Linked DNA regions of Homo sapiens. The protein of the gene in region 2 interacts with the protein of the main gene of each other region in a pairwise test. Each region holds a gene or a part of one and is shown on either strand. Other genes may lie near its edges.

Evidence for each region.
Region 1: the proteins of RNF24 (region 2) and BNIP3 interact in binary tests that used the Homo sapiens proteins (3 or more experiments, as listed by UniProt).
Region 3: the proteins of RNF24 (region 2) and GOLT1A interact in binary tests that used the Homo sapiens proteins (3 or more experiments, as listed by UniProt).

The regions. Positions count from the first base shown.
Region 1 is NC_000010.11:131,978,924-131,986,438, forward strand, and holds the start of BNIP3 (BCL2/adenovirus E1B 19 kDa protein-interacting protein 3), read right to left. Parts: upstream 3,001-7,515; 5' UTR 2,884-3,000; coding exon 2,838-2,883; intron 1-2,837. UniProt on the Homo sapiens protein: Apoptosis-inducing protein that can overcome BCL2 suppression. May play a role in repartitioning calcium between the two major intracellular calcium stores in association with BCL2.
Region 2 is NC_000020.11:3,942,544-3,949,566, forward strand, and holds part of RNF24 (RING finger protein 24), read right to left. Parts: intron 5,737-7,023; coding exon 5,694-5,736; intron 2,676-5,693; coding exon 2,634-2,675; intron 1-2,633. UniProt on the Homo sapiens protein: May play a role in TRPCs intracellular trafficking.
Region 3 is NC_000001.11:204,210,989-204,218,235, forward strand, and holds the start of GOLT1A (vesicle transport protein GOT1A), read right to left. Parts: upstream 3,001-7,247; 5' UTR 2,919-3,000; coding exon 2,894-2,918; intron 1-2,893. UniProt on the Homo sapiens protein: May be involved in fusion of ER-derived transport vesicles with the Golgi complex.

The sequences.
Region 1 (7,515 bases), on a different chromosome or scaffold from region 2:
AGTGGGGAGAGAACAAAAGAGACCCGCCTGACAAAAGATTTCAAGTATCAAGTCAGCTGGGTAGGTAAATCAGGTCCCTGGCTTCCAACGGGGCTCGTTTCCCTCCACCTTCCTGTTGCCTCCAGGACCTCTGGCCTCCTCTCCTCCAGGACCCTCCAGGGCCTATTGCACGCAGCCTCAGGCATCTGGGCTCCAGGTATCCCACTGCTGCCTCATGCAGAGACCTTGGCTTCTCCTTAAGTGTTGTTGCCAGCCTTATCTTTCACTCCACCTCTAGAACCTCATTGTGACCATCTATGAAATGCAAGTCTTGGACGAGAATCTCGATGTCTGCAACCCCTTCAGGTCTCAAAGCACACAATGCTACAACTCCACTCCAAAATAAGTAGAAAACATCTTTTCCCCTCATACAACTTTGCCCATGGTGAGTTGCCTCTGACAAGAGAGAGAACCATCTGCCAGTTGCAGACACAGCAGTGGGTGAAGAGGTGAGGGCTTGGATTATTAAACACGGCCCTCCAGAGTAAATGGGCATGCACTTTACTGAACTGATGCCCTCCTGGTGAAGACAGTGGGTCCTTCAAGGAAGTGATGCCCCCGCCACCGTGACACGGTCTCGTCACAGAATCCTACCTCTCCTGCATGTTAGCAGTGACATGTCTAGGAGAAAAGGGCCAAGTTCATGGCTACAGTGAGCTATAATGATTGTGCTACTGCACTCCAGCCTGGGGGAGTAAGACTGGGCTTGTAAAAAAAAGGAAAAGGACAAATACGAGCATCCTGCGAGTCAACAACTTTAGCTAGAATGATCAAGAGATAGAAAGGAACAGAATCAGCCCATTTTGCCATTAACTCTTTAGGAAAAGCAGTTGGCCCCAGAGGGTACACTCAGAGGAGAGAGTGCTTGCTGCTTCCATCCGTGGGTCTGGCTGCAAGGCTCCCATTGTTCTCTGTTCCGAGGTCAACAAGGGGCAGTGAAATCGGACAGGCAGAGGTGAGCGCTGCCTGAGCCACCGCTCCGTCCCGGATTTGCAGGCAGCTGGAGCCCGCGGGACCGGCCAACCCCGCCCACGCCGAGCCCACAGTGGCCCCGTCCTGCCGCGCGGACACTCAGGGCGGCCCAAGGAATCGCCTACATGGGATCCACCCCGCGGGTAACTATCTTTTTATAGAATAAACAAAACAGAAAAACAAAAATCTCGTAACTCCGGCGCTGGCCGCCTTGCACTGCCAATGACTCAGCAGCCTGTGTAAGTTACATATTGGAGAGAGGACCGAGCCCCCCGGAGCCCCCTCCACCTCCCAGCGCCCAGATCCCAGCCGGACAGTGAAACGCACAATGTCAGGAGTAACGCGGCTTCACAACCGGAAAATGGGTGATTTTATGGCAAAGAGTTTATAAAAACATCCCTTGGACTTTATTTTATGACAAAAGATAGGAAAACACCTCTTAATCTATTTCAAAATAGTAATTAGCCAATGTTTAAATTTCAAGAGGAAAAATCCGAATTACAGGATTTTAAAGAATATGGTTTTAGGCCAGGCGCGCCTGGTGGCTCAGGCCTATAATCCCAGCACTTTGGGAGGCCGAGGCGGGAGGATCGCTTGAGCCCAGTTCAGACCAGCCTGGGCAACACAGTGAGACCCCGTCTCTTAAAAAAAAAAAAAGGTAAAAAAAAAAAGCTTGTAGTGTTCATATGTATATATATATATTATTCAATATATTACGGTAACTAAGTCCTGCCTAGTAAAATCTTTTTTTTTGTAATAAAATTAGCAACTCACTAAATTTATGTGAATATATGGTTTTAAAAACTCTCAATGAAGATTAAAAGTTCACTGTCAGAGGTTTCAGCAGTCCTTTCCCAAGCTTATTTACATGCTAATTTTGCTTAGTAAACTCTGGCTTCAAAGAACACAAAGGTCAGCTGCCACCAGGTCCCTCCTCCGAGGCTTTGGCCCTAGGGACCCTGGGAAGGCGGCTTCAGTGCCCGCTTCCCTGAGCAAAGGCTCGTCTGGACTCTGACGCGGACCCACCGGGTGGGGTGGGTCTCCACGCCACCCGGCTGTGCGTGGGGCAAGTCCTGCACCCCGGGCCTGCGTTTCCCGCTGCGTGAACGGATGGTCTTGCGAATCTAGCCAAGGGCACACAGCGAGCCTCTACTCGGGCATTAGGCAGGCTGTAACGACTGAGTGCTGCACGGGCAGCGTCCTTTTGCTTGTGTTTTCTTAACCCGTAAGTCATTTAAAGCTTTGTTTTGGAACGACCCTCTAGTGAAATTGGAACATGCCCATTTAATGCCATATTTTAAAAACGCTGTAACCCCCTCCCATCTCCGCGTTCACCCTTGAGGAAATCCTAACAGTCACCATGGATATAAACATTAATAACAAAATTAAAGCTCATAACAGGCCACTTGCCACGCCTTGGTGTTTGGTCATTAAAACCAATACTGGTCTGAACTACAGACCGCGGAGGGCAACGTGGACTTTGAGGCTGTTCGGTCCAACTGCGAGACGCAGATTCACCTCCAGGTGGAATTCTAGCTCGCGCGGAGCTGGAGAATCGGGGCTTTCCCGTGCGGTCCGACCCGGGTCCAAGCCAACCCCCGCCCGAGTGGCGAGGCCGCGAACCCCGGGCAGTACGCGGGGTCCCCACGCCCCGGGCTCCGCATGCCCGCAGGAGGGGTGGGTACGGAAGGGGAGGATGGCGCAGCCTCGCCCGGCCCGCGATGCCCCCTAGGCCTCCCCGGCAACCTCCCCTTGGCGCCCTCTTGGCCTTCCCCAGGCTTCCCCCCCGCGCCCCCTCGGCTCCCGCGCCGCCTCCTCCGCCTCACCCTGCAGGCTCTCCTCCTGCATCCCGGGCGCTCCGTTCTGCGACATGGCGCCAGAGGGCAACTGCGGCGATCGGAGTCCGCGCCGGGCTGCGGGATGTGCTTCAGCTGCGGGCGGTGGGAAAGCGGAGGTCGGAGCGCCGCGGCCCAGCTGCGCTCCCGGACTGAGCGGAGCCCCGCAGCCCGGCCGGAGGAACTCACAGGGCAGGGCGGGGCCGGGCGGATCTGCGGCCGCGTCGCCCATTGGCCGCGACTTGGGGCCTGCGCGTGCGCAGGGGCGTGGGGTGCGTGTGGCACGTGCGGCGCGTGCGCGGGGCGGGTCCTGCGGTGGGCGAGGGGCAGAGGCCTGCGGTGCGCGGGACGCGGGCGGGGAGAGGGGCGGGGCGAGGGGCGCGCAGGCGCGAGGGCGGCAGCGACCGCCTGAGGTGAGCCGGCCCGGGCTGGACGCCGCGGGCCGCGTGACGAGTGGGCTGCGCGGTCGCCGCCGCGGCGGGCGGTGGGCCGGGTTCTCCTTTGAAGGGGCGGTGGGACCGGCGGACTCTCTGGGCACTGGCTACCACGGAGACGCCGCTACGCTTCGGGGCGGGGCCCGTCTTTCCATCCTGCTAGTGGGGAAACTGAGGCGCGGGGCTGGCGGCGTCCGTGCGGGGGGCGTGAGGACGTGCAGGGAAGCGGCCGCTGCGGCTCCGAGACGGCCCGTGGGGTCGGGACCTGCGCCCGGGGCGGGAGCTGCGAGCGGTGGGCCGGAGCTGAGCGTCTCGGGACGGGACCGCGTCCCCGGGTCTTTGCCCGCCCCGCCGGGGCGCCCCTGCGTGAACAGCGGGGCCCGTTGTGTCCGGGGCGTCCGCCCGCAGGAAGAAGCGGAGGCTCGAGCAGAGTCGAAAGAGTCTGCCCGAGGGAGGCGCGGACCCCAGGGGCCCGGGAGAGGCGCGCCGTCCGCCTCTGCGGCAAGGGGCCTCCGGGGTGCAAACGCGGTGTGGGGCGGGCGTCCCCGGGGTGGGACGCCCCGTCCACGGGGCGGAGTGGCGCTTGGTCGGGCCGGGTGGGTGCCCGGCTTCCGTGGGAGCCAGCCTGGCGTGGGGGCCTCGCAGCCTCGGGACTGGGAGGCACTTTTCAGAGGAAAGTCGCTTTCTCATTTCCCGCTTTTGATCAAAAGTCTTTCTTCTTGAAAGCATTGTTGATCCAAATCCAAGTGTCAAGGTGCGCCCCAGAAACGCTGCTTCCCAGACAGTCGTGTCTGGTCTTGCGGGAAAGGAGGAGGCGTCCCGCCAAGGAACCAGGCGCTCAGAAGCTGAACCGGGGTCACAGAGCCGCGAAGCCAGACCTCAGTCGCTGCGTGCATTTCATCCCTGCTCTTGCCTGTTGAATCGTCTCTAGTCTTTGGAGTGCCATGATTTTAGTTTTCTCAGGAGTAACAAACATCCAGAGGCCAGTGTGGGGCGCATGTCTTTCATCTCAGCACTTTGGGAGGCCGAGGCAGGAGGATCGCTGGAGCCCAGGAGTTGGAGACCAGTCTGGGCAATATGGCGAAACGCTTTCTCTCCCCTAAAAAAATACAAAAAACTTAGCTGGGTATGGTGGCACCTGCTGTGGGAGGATTCCTTGAGCCCAGGAGGTAGGGGCTACAGTGAGCCATGATCAGGCCACTACCCTCCAGCCTGGGCAACAGTGTGAGACCCTGTCTCAAAAAAAAAAAAAAAAAAACCGCCAGAGATACATAGCATAGCATTAATAATTTCGATAGTAGAACTGTAGTGCTGGCCAGGCAGTGGTTCTTGTGTGTAATCCCAGCATTTGGGGAGCCCAAGGCAGGAGGGTCACTTGAGCCTGATAGTTCAAGACCAACCTGGCAACACAGAAAGACTCCATCTCTATTAAAACAAAAATGTTACCAAGTACGGTGCACATAAGGATTACAATGAAAAAGAGAATGTGTATGCCAGAATGAAAAACGGAACCTATTCGAGGGAGTCAACTAAAAGTATTACGAAGAAAATCAAATGGAGAATTGTTCAGAATAGTGTAGCCTAGTGGCTTGTACTTTTTCCCATATGAGTTTCTACTTCGTGGAAAGGGTTTATGCACATCAAGAGGTATTTGCCACCATACATAGACTTGCTTGCTCAGCTAATAATCGAAAGCAATGCAGTCGTCCAGTGCAGCCTTAGCCAGTGAGTCAGTAGCTTTTTGTTGGGCTGTGATGGAGGCAGCAGTTTCATCAGCAATATTTCCTGATAGGCCAGATATGCTCGCAGTCATCCCAAGTAAAAGCAAACAAATACTGACTCTAGGTCCACTGGAATACTAAAGAAGGCACTACATAAATGAGTCACAGTGTCTCACTTCCAGCTGCCGAAAGAGGATGGGGCTTTGGTACTACCAGATGTCTGGGGATCACAGTGTTGATGACGGTTCTCAAATCTTGTACAGAATACCAGCTCTTCCCATTCGGCTTCCTTACAAGAAGGATTGGAGTATTACATGCTGGCGCAAGGAATAATTAGACCCCTTTTAATATAGTCTTTTGTTACGGATCTTATTCCTTCATTTGCTTCAGGCCTTAGAGGATATTGTCTGATATTGGGTAAAGGATTAATCAGGTTTACTTCCACTTTAATGAAAGTGGCTGAATATATTTTACTAATGTCGGTGGAAGACTCTGACCATAAGTGGTCTGACAAAGCTTGCCCTAAGCCATCCGTGTCATTAGTGCCAGTTGAAAAAAAAGTTGTTTGATCTGTATTTTTATAATTTCAGTAATTTCTCATTCTGTAGTTTTTCCATTTGCTCCTTCCATTCTAAACCTAAATCCATTTCTTCCTTTTGGGAGAAGGAAAGCATGCATTGTGACGTTCCAACACAAAATGTCTGCCTAAGAGATGTCTGAGAGGTGGGGGAATGAAGAAAAGAATGAGGGCCCTGGGATTCTAAGGGCTTGGACTTGTATCCAGTGATAGGCTGATGAGATAACCCTACCGTTTGTACAGTTCCATTACTCCAAGGAAGGAGACAACTTAAAGTGGACGAAAAGAGTGGCACCAGTGTCTTTGAGGGCATGTGTCTGTTCTTCATTTATGGCAATGTCCATTTCTCCTAAGGCATTAGTAGAAATAGGAACACCTCCCTTCGATCATCAGAGCAATCCTGTTCATCATGTGGGATCCTGGTTTTTCACTGGTCCTGCTGTTAAATTTTCTACAATCTTTTTTGAAATGGCCAGGCTTTTTACAGTAGAAGCAAACAGCCCTTTTGTCATTAGAAGGAGGCCCTGTCTTTTCTTAAAAGGCCTCATTTGGTTAGTCAGTTCTTGTAGTTGCAAATTCATAATCTTTGAGACCTTAGTTTTTTTCTTCCTTCTGAATTGTCTTAGGAAGTTGATCTGCATAGCTTACTAATTTGTGGGTTTGTATATTCACCCGGTTAAGCTGGTATCTTTTTAACTTAGGTAACCAAACCCTCACTTAAGCCACTGAGGAAAGTAGAATTTATGAGGAGTCATTCTAATGATCTTGGAGGCTAACAGGCATTCCAGAATATTATTTAAAGGTTTTTACAAACCCTTCAAAACATCTAAGCAGAGATTTGTCTGACCTTTGAGTACATTGTTGAGTTCTCCTCCAATCTACATTTTTAGGAAAGAACTGGGGCAAGGCATCAGGAAGAGCCTTGGCTAAAGTCCTTATTCAAAAAAGGGGGGCTTTGGAATTGACCGGGAAGGTGGAGCACCAAAGCCCTACCCATCAGCTCTCACACTTTGGCTTGTTGGGTGAATCTCACTGTCCTCTGGGAATTATGTACTTGTTTTCCCCGCACCCAAGGCCATCTCCCACCTGCAGCCTTTTTTTTTTTTTTTTAGAGACGGAGTCTCACTCTGTCACCCAGGCTGGAGTGCGGTGGTGTGATCTCGGCTCACTACAGCCTCAGCCTCCCAAGTAGCTGGGATTACAGGTGCCCACCACCACACCTGGCTAATTTTTGTATTTTTAGTAGACACAGGGTTTTGCCTTGTTGGCCAGGCTGGTCTCTTAACTCCTGACCTCAAGTGATCCACCCACATCAACCTCCCAAAGTGTTGGGATTGCAGGCATGAGCCACTGTGCCCGGCCTTGGAGCCTCTCTTCAATGCTCTCCAGCAAGCACTGAATAATCCACCTGCTTCGTTTTAGGGAATCTTTGTTTCAGTGAAATAAACCTCTCTGTCCTTAAATTTTGGATTCACTCACCCATTGTCATCGCCTCTGCTGTCTCTGATGCAGATATTTAAGGAAAACGGTTATTTTCCGGCAGCAACAGTGGACAATGAAGCTGTCATGTGTGGCAGGACAGCAGGGAGCAGGCAGTTGGTGAGAACTCAGCTTCTACAGGCAGGAATGGAGTGGGAGAGGCCCTCAGTGGTCCAGGATTTGGGAGGATTCTGTGCCTAGTCCCTGTAAAAGCTGCCAAGTGTGTTCAGAATTATTGGACTAGGTTTGCAGACAGGGAGTCCCCAGAGTTTTGGGGGTTGAGATTTCTTCTTGGTACAGCTCTGGGTAGATAAAGCAGATGTAGGAATCCCAAAAGGAGCTAATTTGGAGAATATCTGTTTGGAAACAGTGGAGAGGTGGGTGCAGCCAGAAGCAGAAGTTACTTTCTGCAGGGTTAACCAACGAAGGCTCGTTCACCAGAAAATGTGCCCTGCTGA
Region 2 (7,023 bases):
CTCACTGCAAGCTCCGCCTCCCAGGTTCATGCCATTCTCCTGCCTCAGCCTCCTGAGTAGCTGGGACTACAGGCACCCACCACCACGCCCGGCTAATTTTTTTGTATTTTTAGTAGAGACGGGGTTTCACCATGTTAGCCAGGATGGTCTCGATCTCCTGACCCTGTGATCCGCCTGCCTCGGCCTCCCAAAGTGCTGGGATTACAGGCGTGAGCCACCGCGCCTGGCCTGGACAAATATTTCAAAGCAAAGGAATTTACCTGGGATGAAGACAGTTTTTTTTTTTTTTTGAGATAGTGTTTCATTCTTGTTGCCCATGCTGGCGTGCAATGGCACGATCTCAGCTCACTGCAACCTCTGCCTCCAGGTTCAAGTGATTCTCCTACCTTAGCCTTCCGAGTAGCTGGGATTACAGGTGTCCATCACCGCGCCTGGCTCATTTTTGTATTTTTGGTAGAGATGGAGTTTCACCATGTTGGCCAGGCTGGTCTTGAACTCCTGACCACAGGTGATCCTCCTGCCTTGGCCTCCCAAAGTGCTGGGATTATAGGTGTGAGCCACCCAGCCCGGCGAGAGACCTTGACAAAAGGGTCAGTTCACCAAGAAGATATTCAATGTGTATACAACTAACAACAGAGCTTCAAATAAATAAATAGACATAATGTATTCACAGGTCAGAAGACTCACCATGGTAAAGGTCAATTCTCTCCAAACACATTTATAGAGTTAATGCAATATAAATCAAAATCCCAGCAGGATTTTTTTTTTTTTTTTGTGGATACAGATGAGCTGATGCTACAATTTACATGGAAGGGTCAAGGAACCAGACTAGCTAAAACAATTTTGGAAAAGAATGAGGTTGGAAGAATCACACTGCCTGATTTTAAGATTTACTATAAAGCTATTAATAATCAAGACAGTGTGGTACTGATGAAGAAACAGGCACACAAATCAAGAGAATATAATGGAGAATCCAGAAATACAGTCACAAAAAATATGGCTATTTGATTTTTGAAAAAGGTGCAAAAGAATTTCAATGAAGAAAGCAACTCACCATAACCAAAGCTGGGGATACTATGGTGAAAAAAATCCAAGACTAGATACAAATGACCAGCGAAACAGGAATTGGTGGGTGTAGTTGGATACTAACTATGATACATACTGATGCAACACACAATGTATTTATTCAGGACAAAGTTTCTAAACTAACAGGTCACACCAGTAAGGAAGACTTCTGTTCTGGATTAATCTGGTAAAAATTTAATCTTTTCATTTACGGTCATCAAAAAGACTCCAAATGGGAAACAGACCACTTTTATTATTTCATGTTAATTTTGGCCATGTGTCAAAATTAACTTCTAGGAAAAGTAAAAAATCAAACAGTGGCCGGCTGCCGTGGCTCACGCTTGTAATCCCAGCACTTTGGGAGGCCGAGGTGGGTGGATTACGTGAGGTCAGGAGTTCAAGACCAGCCTGGCCAACATGGTGAAACCCCGTCTCTACTAAAAATACAAAAATTAGCTGGGTGTGGTGGCGCATGCCTATAATCCTAGCTACTCGACAGGCTGAAGCAGGAGAATCGCTTGAGCCCAGGAGGCGGAGTTTGTAGTGAGCGGAGATTGCACCATTGCACTCCAGCCTGGATGACAGAGTAAGACCCCGTCTCAAAAAAAAAAAAAAAAAAAAATCAAACAGTAATTAATGCTTCAGTTTAATCCAAGGCTAGGTCTAAAATGCCATTAAACAGAAACATATCAATTCTTTGATGAAAAATATGCAGAAAGAGCAAAGGACCAATAGATGATTTCAAAATATTTAACAATAATATGATTATTTTTATTATGATTCAAAAAACCTAACAAATTAACTTTCTTTGAAGAGACTGGCAATTTAGCTTCACCACAGCTAGGCTATATGCGACACTGCTATTACAACACACAGCTTTTCAAGTCCTTGCTTTAAACACCAATTAGAAAACCCAGAAAGGGAGAAGGAAAGGGTGATAAAAAATAAAAATTCTGAAAGTTTGTAGTCAGAGGCAACACAAGAAATAGAATGAAAAAGAATTCTTATAGGCTATGTATCTTAATGTATACAGCAGGATATACACACCCAAGTTTGTACTTAAGTTACAAAGCACCTATGTCCCAACCATGCAACCGAAGAGCTAAACAATCCCAAGGATTCATATCGCTACCTGTGTGTTCTTCCCCTGTTCCGTATGTCTTACCTTCTTCAATCCCTACCCCCATGAGATAACTGCTCTCTTTTTTGTACCATTGGTAAGAAAGAAATATTGGGAACATTTTCAATGGGGAAATTAGTACATACTCACCTTGAGTAGAAAAACTAACGTATCTGTTTCCTATTCATACAGCATGGACGGCAAGCAGCATCCCTACTGCTATGAAATTTTATAATGGTGTCATCACTATTAAAAGTATGAGTTATATTACTCTCGTAAAGCCTTCACACAATTGATTTTTATGTGACCTCACCCTGAAATATTCTATTACCCCAATCAAAATAAGCCTATTTTTTTCAACTACTGAGAATAAAAGTGTTTAAACATACCACAGCATACCACTGCTACTAGAAAATGGCTCAAGAGGATTTACTTATCATCAACTTACCTCATGTAAATTCAATTCTTTTACTTTCTCTTTTAATATAACCTGTAAGACAAAAAAGTATGTTCTTATGCCCATTTAAATCTGTAACTTTAAATATTTCTCATTATATTCTCAAATATTTTTCTTTTGTATATATGGCTCATTTCCCTCATATTCAATATTGAAGGGAATTTCTTTTACAGTTTGAGACAGATCATTTTAGCAACATTTTTTTAACTTGAGCAATGATGCAATATTCTCCTAAAAAAGGAATTTTGGCCGAGCATAGTGGCTCACACCTGTAATCCCAGCACTTTGGGATGCCAAGGCGGGTGGGTCGCCTGAGGTCAGGAGTTTGAGACCAGCCTGGTCAACATAGTGAAACCCTGTCTCTACTAAAAATACAAAAATTAGCTGGATGTGGTGGCGCCTGCCTATAATCCCAGCTACTCGGCAGGCTGAGGCAGGAGATTCACTTGAACCCAGGAGGCGGAAGTTGCAGTGAGCCGAGATCGTGCCATTGCACTCTAGCCTGGGCAACAAGAGCGAAACTCCGTCTCAAAAAAAAAAAAAAAAAGTAAGTCAATCTTAATTTTGAAAGTTTTGACTCCGTGGTGACCAGACAGTAGTTAAAATGAATGCCAAGTGATAAGAAGGAAGTTTACTATTTAAGAAAAAACTCTGAGACTAAATATAGCTTATTAGAGTTATATTTCATCTTAAAGTGAAGAAAATAGGCAAGTAAAATTTGAGGGAAAATCTCTAAATTTTGGTGTCTTACATTCCTGAACTAAAAATGGATTTGAGGGTAAATCCTGTTTTCAGAAATCACACCAGAAGCTACTATAAGGCCTCACAGGGATATACTAAATTTCCTATCCAGTATATTTTAAAGATCAAATTTACTGTATGTCTTGTGACTTGTCTAGTTTTATCAGTCAATTTCACTTAAATGACTGCAAAGGCCAATTTTACTTTCTAGTTAGCCTACATACAAATATCTTGTAAGCTGTCAAGATTATAATACGTGGCCAGGCACGGTAGCTCATGCCTGCAATCCCAGCACTTTGGGAGGCCGAGGTGGGCGGACTGCTTGATCCCAGGAGTTTAAGACCAGCCTAGGCAACATGGCAAAACCCTGTCTCTACAAAAAATACAAAAATTAGCCAGGTGTGGTGGTGCACGCCTGTAATCCCTGCTACTTGGGAGGCTCACCTGAGCCCAGGAGGCAGAGGTTGCAGTGAGCTGAGATTGCACCACTGCACTCCAGCCTGCGTGACAGAAGCGAGACCCTGTCTCAAAACAAAACAAAACAAAACAAAACAGATTATGATAGGAGTCTGGGCAACATGGGGAGACCCCATCTCTACAAAAAGTACAAAAATTAGCCGGGGGTGGTGGTGTGCGCCTGTAGCCCCAGCTATGCATGCCACCACACTCAGCTAAGGTGGGAGGATCACCTGAGCCCAGGGAGGTCAAGGCTGCAGTGAGCTGTGATCATGCCACTGCACTCCAGTCTGGGTGACAGAGACCCCGTCAAAAAAAAAAAAAAAAAAAGATTATGATAGGACTGAGACAAAAAGATTCATTCATTTAGAAAACTAAAATACTCAACTCTGATTTTGGATCCCACATGAGACCTGTAAGAGTGTGGGGTTACCTAAGGACATCAGTATGTCCATCTAGGGAATGTGCCAGTGAGCTCAGATTTCAAACATACATGGACGAAAGATGAACAGAAAGATAAGCAGTCCTGGCTGGGCGCGGTGGCTCACACCTGTAATCCTGGCACTTTGGGAGGCCGAGGTGGGTGGATCACGAGGTCAAGAGATCAAGACCATCCTGGCCAACATGGTGAAATCCTGTCTCTACTAAAAATACAAAAATTAGCTGGGCGTTGTGGCAGATAGATGGCTGTCGTCCCAGCTACTTGGGAGGCTGAGGCAGGAGATCACTTGAACCCGGGAGGCGGAGGTTGCATTGAGCTGAGATCTTGCCATTGCACTCCAGCCTGGCGACAGAGCGAGACTCCGTCTCAAAAACAAACAAAAACAAGATACGCAGTTCTGAAGTGTTACAGTTCCATAACATCAGCGTCAGCAAGGTTAAAGACTCAAATAAGCTGAAGCTCCCCTGTACCCAAGAAGAAAGCTAAGGGTAACAAAAATTAAGAATTTCATGCTTAGAGCCAAAGGAAAATCTAGGCCCCCTGTTTGGAAGAAAAAAATAATTTTACTTGGCCTTTGAGAAAAGATAAGTGTATTAACTTAAAGACAAAATCAGTGAAGGACTAGGTATTGACAGCTATGATCCAAGTTTGCAGACTTCTAGTGGATAATATGAGCTAACATTTAAAGTACAAAAGGGAGTAGATGAGATCACTGTAACACAGCTGGTCGCTCACCTCCGAGGAACTGCTATGTCTTCTAATAAAGAAGGAAGGAAAAATTTCACTTAATGGTATCTCAGAACTCCATTAAGTCGACAGTAACTTTAAGAATTACAAGCTATAGCATTTCTCTTTAGCAATCTGTTGGCTCAAGTTTCCTGTTAAATTATATCATCTGAACTTTCTACAGCTTCAAGTAATGCTTACAAAAGAAGAGAAAAGCTGGGCACAGTGGCTCACGCCTGTAATCCCAGCACTTTGGGAGGCCGAGGCGGGCGGATCACCTGAGGTCCAGAGTTCGAGACCAGCCTGACCAACATGGAGAAACCCCGTCTCTACTAAAAATACAAAATTAGCCAGGCGTGGTGGCGCATGCCTGTAATCCCAGCTACTTGGGAGGCTGAGGCAGGAGAATAGCTTGAACCTGGAAGGCGGAGGTTGCTGTGAGCCGAGATCACGCCATTGCACTCCAGCCTGGGCAACAAGAGCGAAACTCCGTCTCAAAAAAAAAAAAAAGAAGAGAAGAATACTTAAGAAAATGAAGTTGATATATTATACTGCAAATTGGCAGTGAGATGCTAAAATGAACACAAGTAAATTCAGTCCCAGTTTAACGTATGAGTGGAAATCAGAGTTCTCAGTTTTTTGGGGGGAAAAAAAAAATCAAAGCCAATCTGAATTAAATTTCTCACCTGTTTGTAGGCATAAAATTCTTTGTGTGCTTGATGTCTTAGCCTAAAAGACAGAAATTAGTAATGCAATATTGAGATTTCCAACATAGTAACTTGAAGAAAAATAAAAAGTTGCTGATTTTGGTATTAATTTATAACATTTATGGCTCAAATGATATAAATTAGAATCTTTACCCTGAAATACACCCAAATGATGTATCTCTTAACATGCTATGTGAAAGTGCCCAGGGAACCATGAAATGTTACCCAAACGTAAGATGACTCAATTCTTTTTATACCGACAGTCTACTTATTTCAATAATATTTATATTTTTTCTTAATTAGAAAAAATTTAAGTATAACATACATCCAATGAAGTATAAAAACCTTAAGTATACAGCTCAAAATCTTAAAAAATGTACATACCAGGATAACTGTTGCTCATATCAAGACATGGTACATTTCCAGCACACCTGAGCCCTCTAAAATGATCCTTCCTAATCAATATCCATGCCCCAGAGGTAGCACTATCCTGATTTCTAACACTGTAGATTAATTATGCCTGTTTTTGAACTTCATGTAAATGGATCGTTTGGTATATACTCTTTTGTGTTTGGTTTCTTTCAGTCTACAATGCCTTGTGAGATTCTTCCATATTGTTGTAGTAATTGTCTTTCTGACTGACATACAGTATTCCATTGTATGAATATAATACCATTTATTTATCCATTTTACTGCTGATGAATATTTAATTACTTCCTGTTTGAGGCTATTATTAAAGCTGATACACAAATTCTACATGTCTTTTAGTGGACATATATACTCATTTCTGTTAAGTATATACCCGGGAGTAGAACTGCTGGTTCAAAGTACTCACACCGAGGCTGGGCACCGTGGCTCACGCCTGTAATCCTAGCACTTTGGGAGGCCGCGGCAGGCGGATGGCCTGAGGTCAAGAGTTTGAGACCAGCCTGGTCAACAGGGAGAAACCCCGAATCTACTAAAAATACAAAAATTAGCCAGGCATAGTGGCACATGCCTGTAATCCCAGCTACTTGGGAGGCTGAGGCAGGAGAATCACTTGAACCCAGGAGGCGGAGGTTGCAGTGAGCCGAGATCATGCCACTGCACTCCAGCCTGGGTGACATAGTGAGACTTTGTCTTGAAAAAAATAAAAGTACTCACCCTGGCCGGACACAGTGGCTCATGCCTGTAATCCCAGCACTTTGGGAGGCTGAGGCAGGAGGATCGCTTGAGCCCAGGAGTTCGAGACCAGCCTGGGCAATAAGGCAAAACCTCATCTGTACAAAAAATACAATTAGCTGGGCATGGTGGCGTGTGGCCTGTGGTC
Region 3 (7,247 bases), on a different chromosome or scaffold from region 2:
CCCACCCCTCCCCCATGAAATCCACAGCTAAGTTTTCTTTTCTTCTTCCAAGATACATGTTGAAAGCTGTCCATTTCTCTCCATTCTTAACACCTAATTCCCGGCCACGATCATCTCTTTCCTGGACGTATGCAGCAGCCCCCATTTGGCCTCCTGCTTTATTCCTGCACCCTCCCAGTCCTTCTCCACACGGCGCTCAAAGGTCTTGCAAAACATACAACCTGATCATGTTAGCATACTGCCTAGACTCCTTCACGGCTGCCCACTGAGATTAGACTGCAGCAGAGCCTTCTCATCCACACCACAGCTCACAGGCCCTGCCTGGTGGGGCCCAGGCCTGCCTGCCCACCTCATCTCCTGCCACTGTCCCTATTGCCTGCCATGCTCCAACCACACTGTTCTCCATGGCTTCCATGTGAGCCCTCTTGACTCAGGGCCTTCGTACATGCAGTTTCCTGGTCTGCAACACCCTGCCTCTCACTTGTTACTTGACAATGCATCCTCATCATTCAGGTCTCAGCTGAAATGTCAGTTGCTCAGGGAAAGCTGGTCCACTCTCTTCCCTGACCTAAATCCCTCATTTCTCTCTCTCACAGGACTTGCTTATCATATTTGGTAAGAGTATATTACTTGCAGGCTAATTGGTTTAACAAAGTGTCAGCGTGCCACTGGGTTGAGGACCCAACCCACCTCTCTCTATATTTTTATTCGCCAGGTCCATGATTCTCAACTGGGCTGAGGGGATTGTGGGTGGGGAAGCGGGGTGCGGGATGGAAATTTGTTTCCCAGGGGACATCTGGCAATGTTTGAAGACATTTTTTATTGTCACAACTTGGAGTGGGGGTGCTACTGGCATGTAGTGGATAGAGGCCAGGGATGCTGCTGATATCCTATAATGTACAGGACAGGCCCCCACAACAAAGAATTATCCTGCCCCAAAATGTCAATAGTGGGGAGGTGAGAAACTGTGCCTGCCCTCGGTGATCTCATGGATGCTCATAGTCCTAAAAACCATGTATATGCAGATTATTCCCACATTTCTGTCTCCAGCCCAGGCCTCTACCTGGAACTCCAGACTCACATACCCAACCACCTACCTGACATCTCACCCGGATGTCTAACAGCACAAACAGACTCAACACATCTAAAGCCCAATTCCTGCTTCCCCCCACTCAACCCTTCCCATTGCACAGGCTAAAAAATATACAAGGCATTCTTGACTCCTCTTTCTCTCACACCCTATGTCCAAACCGTCAGCAAATCCTCAACGCTTTCCTCAAGGCAGATCCAGCATGGACCACGCCCCGCTAATCTCCTGCTAACACCTTGGTCTCCACCTTCACACACTCAGGACTGGCTTCCCTGGCTGGGCGCGGTGGCTCACGCCTGTAATCCCAGCACTTTGGGAGGCTCAGGCAGGTGGATCACTTGAGAAGTCAGGAGTTCGAGACCAACCTGGTAAACGTGGAGAAACCCCATCTCTACTAAAAATACAAAAATTAGCCAGGTGTGGTGGTGGGTGCCCGTAACCCCAGCTACTTAGGAGGCTGAGGCAGGAGAATCGCTTGAACCCAGGAGGTGGAGGTTGCAGTGAGCAGAGATCATGCCACTGTACTCCAACCTGAGCGACAGAGTGAGACTCTGTCTCAAAAAAAAAAAAAAAAAAAAAGAACTGGCTTCCCTGCTGCTGCCTTCATACCTCCACAGTCTATTCTCAACCCAGCACCCAGAATGATCTTTTAAACATAGAAATAGAACATATCACACCATAGCACAAAACCAAGGTCATTACCATGGTCTATAAGTCTCCAGTGTCCTGACCCCTCAGTGACATCCCTGACCTAAACTCCTATGATTCTCCCCTCACCTCACTTTGCTCCAGGTATACCCACCTCCTTGTTGTTCTTCAAACACACCAAGTATGCTAATGCCTCAGGGCCTTTGCACTGCCTGTCCCTGCTTCCTGAACATTTCCCCTCCAGAGAGCTGCGTGGCTTTGCTTCCTCACTTCCTATAGATCTCTGAAAAAAGATCTGAATAAAGGCTCACCTTCTCAGTGAGGCTTCCCTGACCACTCTATATAAAATAGCGACCCCTCCTACCTCGAACTCCATAGCCTCCTCTTGTTTTATTTTCATCTGGAGGACTTATCATCTTCTGATATACTATATACTTCTTTCTGTTAATTACCTGTCTCCCCTCTCTAGAATGTAAGCAGGGAGTCAGTTTCATTTAATGTTGGACACTCTATATCCAACACAGTGCTTGGCACACAGCAGAGACAAATCTGTTGAGTGAACAAAAGAATGTTGTCACCAATTCTCAGATGAAAAACCAAGGCTCAGAGGCTTTAAGTAACTCACCCAAATGAAGCCCACAGAGCCACGGTTCTTCCCATGGCCCCAGACTTGTTCCAAGACCTCCTCCCTACCTCTTCCCCCAAAAGAAGGGGAAGGATGTTTAGGAGTGAGGGTATGGTGGTTTGGTCAGGGGAGTGGAGTTTAGTTTTTTATAAGAAGCCCCCAGGGCCACAGGAGACCTTGATGGTGTGGGGAAAGATGTCTGAATGGGCAGAGGCCTCCTGAGTCCACCTTTGTGGCAACCCAGTTCTAAGAACCCGGGATGGGAAAGGGGTCAGTGTGAATGGGGAACCTGCCAGGCCCCCTGGGCACCAGCCTCTAGCTACCTGTGGGCCCTGAGCAACTCCCACCCGCTGGAGGGTAGGGAGCCACACCCCACCCTGCCTGCTGCCCCAGGGTGCCAGCACAGCATCTCCCAGCCCCTGGCTCCAGAGGTCACGCTTGTAGTGACAGAGAGCCCAGCTGGGAGAGAGAGCCAGCCGGCAGGGAGCCTGGCCTGGATAGCCCATTGCAGCCCCGCTCATCCCACTTACTCTGCCATTCGGTGATGGAGATCATGCCGCACTCAGCCTGGGGGGCTTTCCGGGTGGAAGCGGGCAAGTGGAGCGTGGCCCAGAGGACGCAGCTGGTACATGGTCACGGGAAGCTGACCCTTGGTTAAGTTGCGAAATGAGCCTGTGGCAAATCATTAACTCTCCCTCCAGCCCCCGCTCCACCCCCGCACACCACGCAGGTGCTTCTACTCGCCAGCTCCCTCCTCCCGTTTTCCGGTAGGGCAATGCCCCGCCCCTCCACCTGCCGCGCCTGCCCGGGGAAGGCACCGCCCACCTGACCCTTTCCTCGCACCTCGCGGTGTTCTGCGGCTCTCGTCTGCTCCGCGAAACTTAGATTGTATGTGGAAGCATTGGAATCTAGGGGGTGCTCAAGTTTCTTGCTTGGTTTGATAGTGTGGGAAGAGTTGGCATCTGCGCATCCCTTTGGGAATGTACTAAATTCATCTTGAAAGTCAAGCTTTTTGCTCTCTGCTATTGCACATGCTAGGCGCTGGGAGGCGATGAGCGACTGAGCACAAAGCCTGTTGTTGACCTAATGGCAGAGCCAGATCGGGTTAAATCAATGGCAAAAGCGCCATGGGGGAAGTTAGACGTGAAGGTCTTCGACCTCCTTTCCCCAAGCGGCGTCCAAGCTTTGGACTGACTGTGATGTTGAGCTATGGAAGACAAAGCCCTGAATTTGGGGTTGGGGCAGGACTGCACAATTTAGGAGGCCTGGTTCTAGTCTACCCACCAGCTGTGTAGACATGGATTCGTCCTTTGGGCCTGCAAAAAGAGAGGCAGTTAGTTCCTAACATCCTTTTTTCCCATCGCAGAGCAGTGGTTCTGACGTGGCATTGATGCCAGGAGAGCCAACATCCACTTTGCAATGTCTTCTGTGTCCAGAAATGAAGAAATGAATTTCAAAGACTACCTATATACATCATTTAAAAATGCAAATAGGCCTGGCATACAAAATGCATTATGTCTGTAATCCCAGCATTTTGGGAGGCCAAGGCAGGAGGATTGCTTGAGCCCAGGAGTTTGAGACCAGCCTGAGCAACATAGTGAGACCTTGTCTCTACAATAATAAAAATAAAAAATTAGCCGGATGTGGTGGTACCTGCCTGTAGTCCCAGCTACTGGGGAGGCTAAGGTAGGAGGATTGCTTGAGCCCAGAAGGTCGAGGCTGCGATGAGCTGTGATCAAGCCATGCACTCCAGCCTGGGTAGCAGAGCGAGATCCTGTCTCAAAAAAAAACAAACCAAACAACAACAACAAAACCAAGGAAAGCTAACATAATTTTTTAAAAAGAAACAAAAAGATAAATTATAATAAAACATGATGTCTTTCAATATATAAATGTTCAGGCAAGACTTACCAGAAGACATAAATGAAATAGGCAGATTGCTTGCACCCACACATAATATATGTTTGAATTTAAGAGAAATAGAAGATGAGCCATTCTATGCAAAAACAAAAATCACACACATGCAAGAAAATGAAAGAGTAGCAGGAAGTGAACATAGAATAAAAACTGTTAGATAAGGAATAACAGACCAGACGTACTTGCATATGATGAGAGGGAAAGCATCTTAATTGAAATAGGGATAACATAGCAAGGCAAATTAGAGAGCACAAGGTGGAGATAATATAGAAGTATGATGTGCATGCAAAGGAACTCAGTCTTAGGTATGTGTGTATTGTCAAAATAGCTCCCATGGAATGGGGTCGCCATAGAGTACCACAGACACATCAACCTCTGTCTTGAAACATATCAGCGTTGAGGTAAAATTCAGTCTCTGGGATCTTAAAAGGCCTTAGAGATCACATATTTCCAATGGGCAATGGGGGATAGAGGATGGATTGGGAAAAGAAAAGAAGATAAAAGTGGTTTAGAGCAATTGCATGTGGACACCCGGGACAGTGTTGTAAAGACAGGACACAACATTTCCACACATAATTATGACAACATAGCATCCTTGGGCTCCAAAAAAACTAAACATATAAAGGATGGCAATAATATGAAATAAACCCTAAAAACTTTTATTAAGGAAACTCAGTGAGATCTTCTGCATCTCAAGTGTCTCTGATTCCATGTTTGCTTCTCTCACATATCCTCTGTTAAATATTTTCAGTCAATTTCTTCGTTTATTCAGTATCACCTACTGATCAGAACTGTTTTCAATCAAATACATAGTAGCTGAAATCTTATAATCCTTTGTGTAGACAATGCATGGAGTAGATTATTCAATAATTTTAAGACAATGTCTTTATTCCTTTTAAGCTTCTGCTCCATAATAACCATCTCCTAACTTTCTGAGTGTTCATGAAATTTATTTTTAAAAGCTTACAAAACCTTTTGGTATTACTGTCAATTGAAGTATGACCAACTTTTACTGGTAGTGGGTTTAGTTCAGTTGTACATTCGAAAGTAGTACAGGATATGGGACAATTCTTTGTTTTGGAAATCTGTCCTGTGCATTGCAGTCTCGAAATGCCAGCAAGAGTTTTGCACCCTTATGATTGAGACAACCAAATGCCCCTAGGGGCCAGAATCATCCCTGTTGAAATCACTCGTAGGTTAAGAGCTTCATCCTGGCTTCGTGAAGCCTTGGGCATTTTATTTATCCTTTCTGTGCCTCAGCTTCTTGGATAATTATAGTACCTATGACTGACATAGAGGATGAGGATTCATGAGTAAATGCATGTGAAGTGCATAGAACCAGGTACCTGGCACATAGTAAGCACTTAATGAACCACTGTTATTCCTGTTACTGTATAGTTATAATAATTACTATTGTTATTAATGTTATTATTAGTATACTGTTAATATGCTTTATATGAAAGACTTCTACTGTCATCTCAAATTGTGGTGCTAAACCACTCCCGCAGGTGTATAAAATAGCAACTGGGGATGCCCCTTCCTGCCCCCACCCCCAGCCATGGAACCCACCTGTGAGCTCAGGAGAATTAAACGCTCATGATACTGGGCCCTCCGGGCCTGATTCTCTGGGTACTGGAGCTAAGCCCAGAGGCGCTGTCCACAACTCATCCTTCTGGAGAGGGACCTTCATAGGGACAACGCCGGGAAGGCTGGTGCTAGTCCTCGACCCATGGCAGTCTCATGACCCTGCCATGATGAGAAAAGTGTGGGGTAGTGCAGTTACTCCCTGGGCTGGAGGCATAGAAGTGGCAGGGGAGGGACACCTCAGGGATGGCACGGGCCCTGGTGATGTCTTCCAGCAAAGGCTGTAGAGCTAGTAAAGGAGGGGTCCTGGAAAACCTTCTCCCTCTTCCCACATCAGGCCCCTGCAGGTGGCCAGGGAGCCTTTGCAACATCACCACTTCCACTTCCTCACATTTGGAAGTGAATTTGAGTTTTCAAAGTGATTTTCATCCATTTTCTCATTTGTCTTTCTTGAAAGTTCCATAAGATGGTGGTTAATATACCCATTTTCCAGATGAGGGAACTGAGACTCAAGAATTTAATGACTTGTCCAAATCTTCATGCAGCTAGCAAGGAGCATGTTGCTAGGGGCAGGAGTTGAGGATGACATGCCACCTTCTCTCATTGGTCTCAGTAACGAGGTGAGGCTCGGGATGAGGAGGGGGACGTGGCGTGGCCCCAGTTCCCTGGCAGCAGCAGGGTCTGAGGCTTGGCTGCCTGCCTGACCCTGTCGTGCCTGTCTTCAAGAATAAATAAGTGATCATGCAGTTACACAGCTCTGCTCCTTAAAGGACATTCTGCTATTGCATTTTCATTTACATTTCTCAGCTACTACCCCCTTTTTACAAATCCCAACCTGGCTTGATCTGGTAGGGGATGGAGCAGGCACCAGCTGGCATCATCTCTTGAGAGGAGGAGGCAGCCCTTGTCGGTGGATGCAGTGATGCCCGGTGGTACTCTGTGGTCTCACATTCCACCTCCTCCCCAAGCCCTTGCCACTGGCTCTGGCTCAGATGGAGCCTGAAGATAAAGGCTCAGCCCCCCAGAAAGTGACGAGTTCTCCAATATGCATCCCCCTACCCCAGCCTCTGATGCAGGCCCTCCCCCAGAGCCTACATCTGGTCACAACTCTCCCGGGTTCACAAAGGACATCATCCTGGGGATGTGACAAAATCCAAAATAGAGTCGAATCTTAAAAATGACCTCCCCCGTACTAGCCCTTAGAAATGGGAACAGGTGTCCAGAATTCAGCTTCAGCCATGAAAGCCAAGCCGATGCAAGATCAGGAATTAGAGGAAGCTTGCTTTCTCATCTCTCCTTCTCGCTTTTTCTTGAGCCATCCCTCCCTCGGACAACATGCAGAAGCCCCGCTGAGCCTGCCAGTCTCCCGGGCGCACCTCTTCT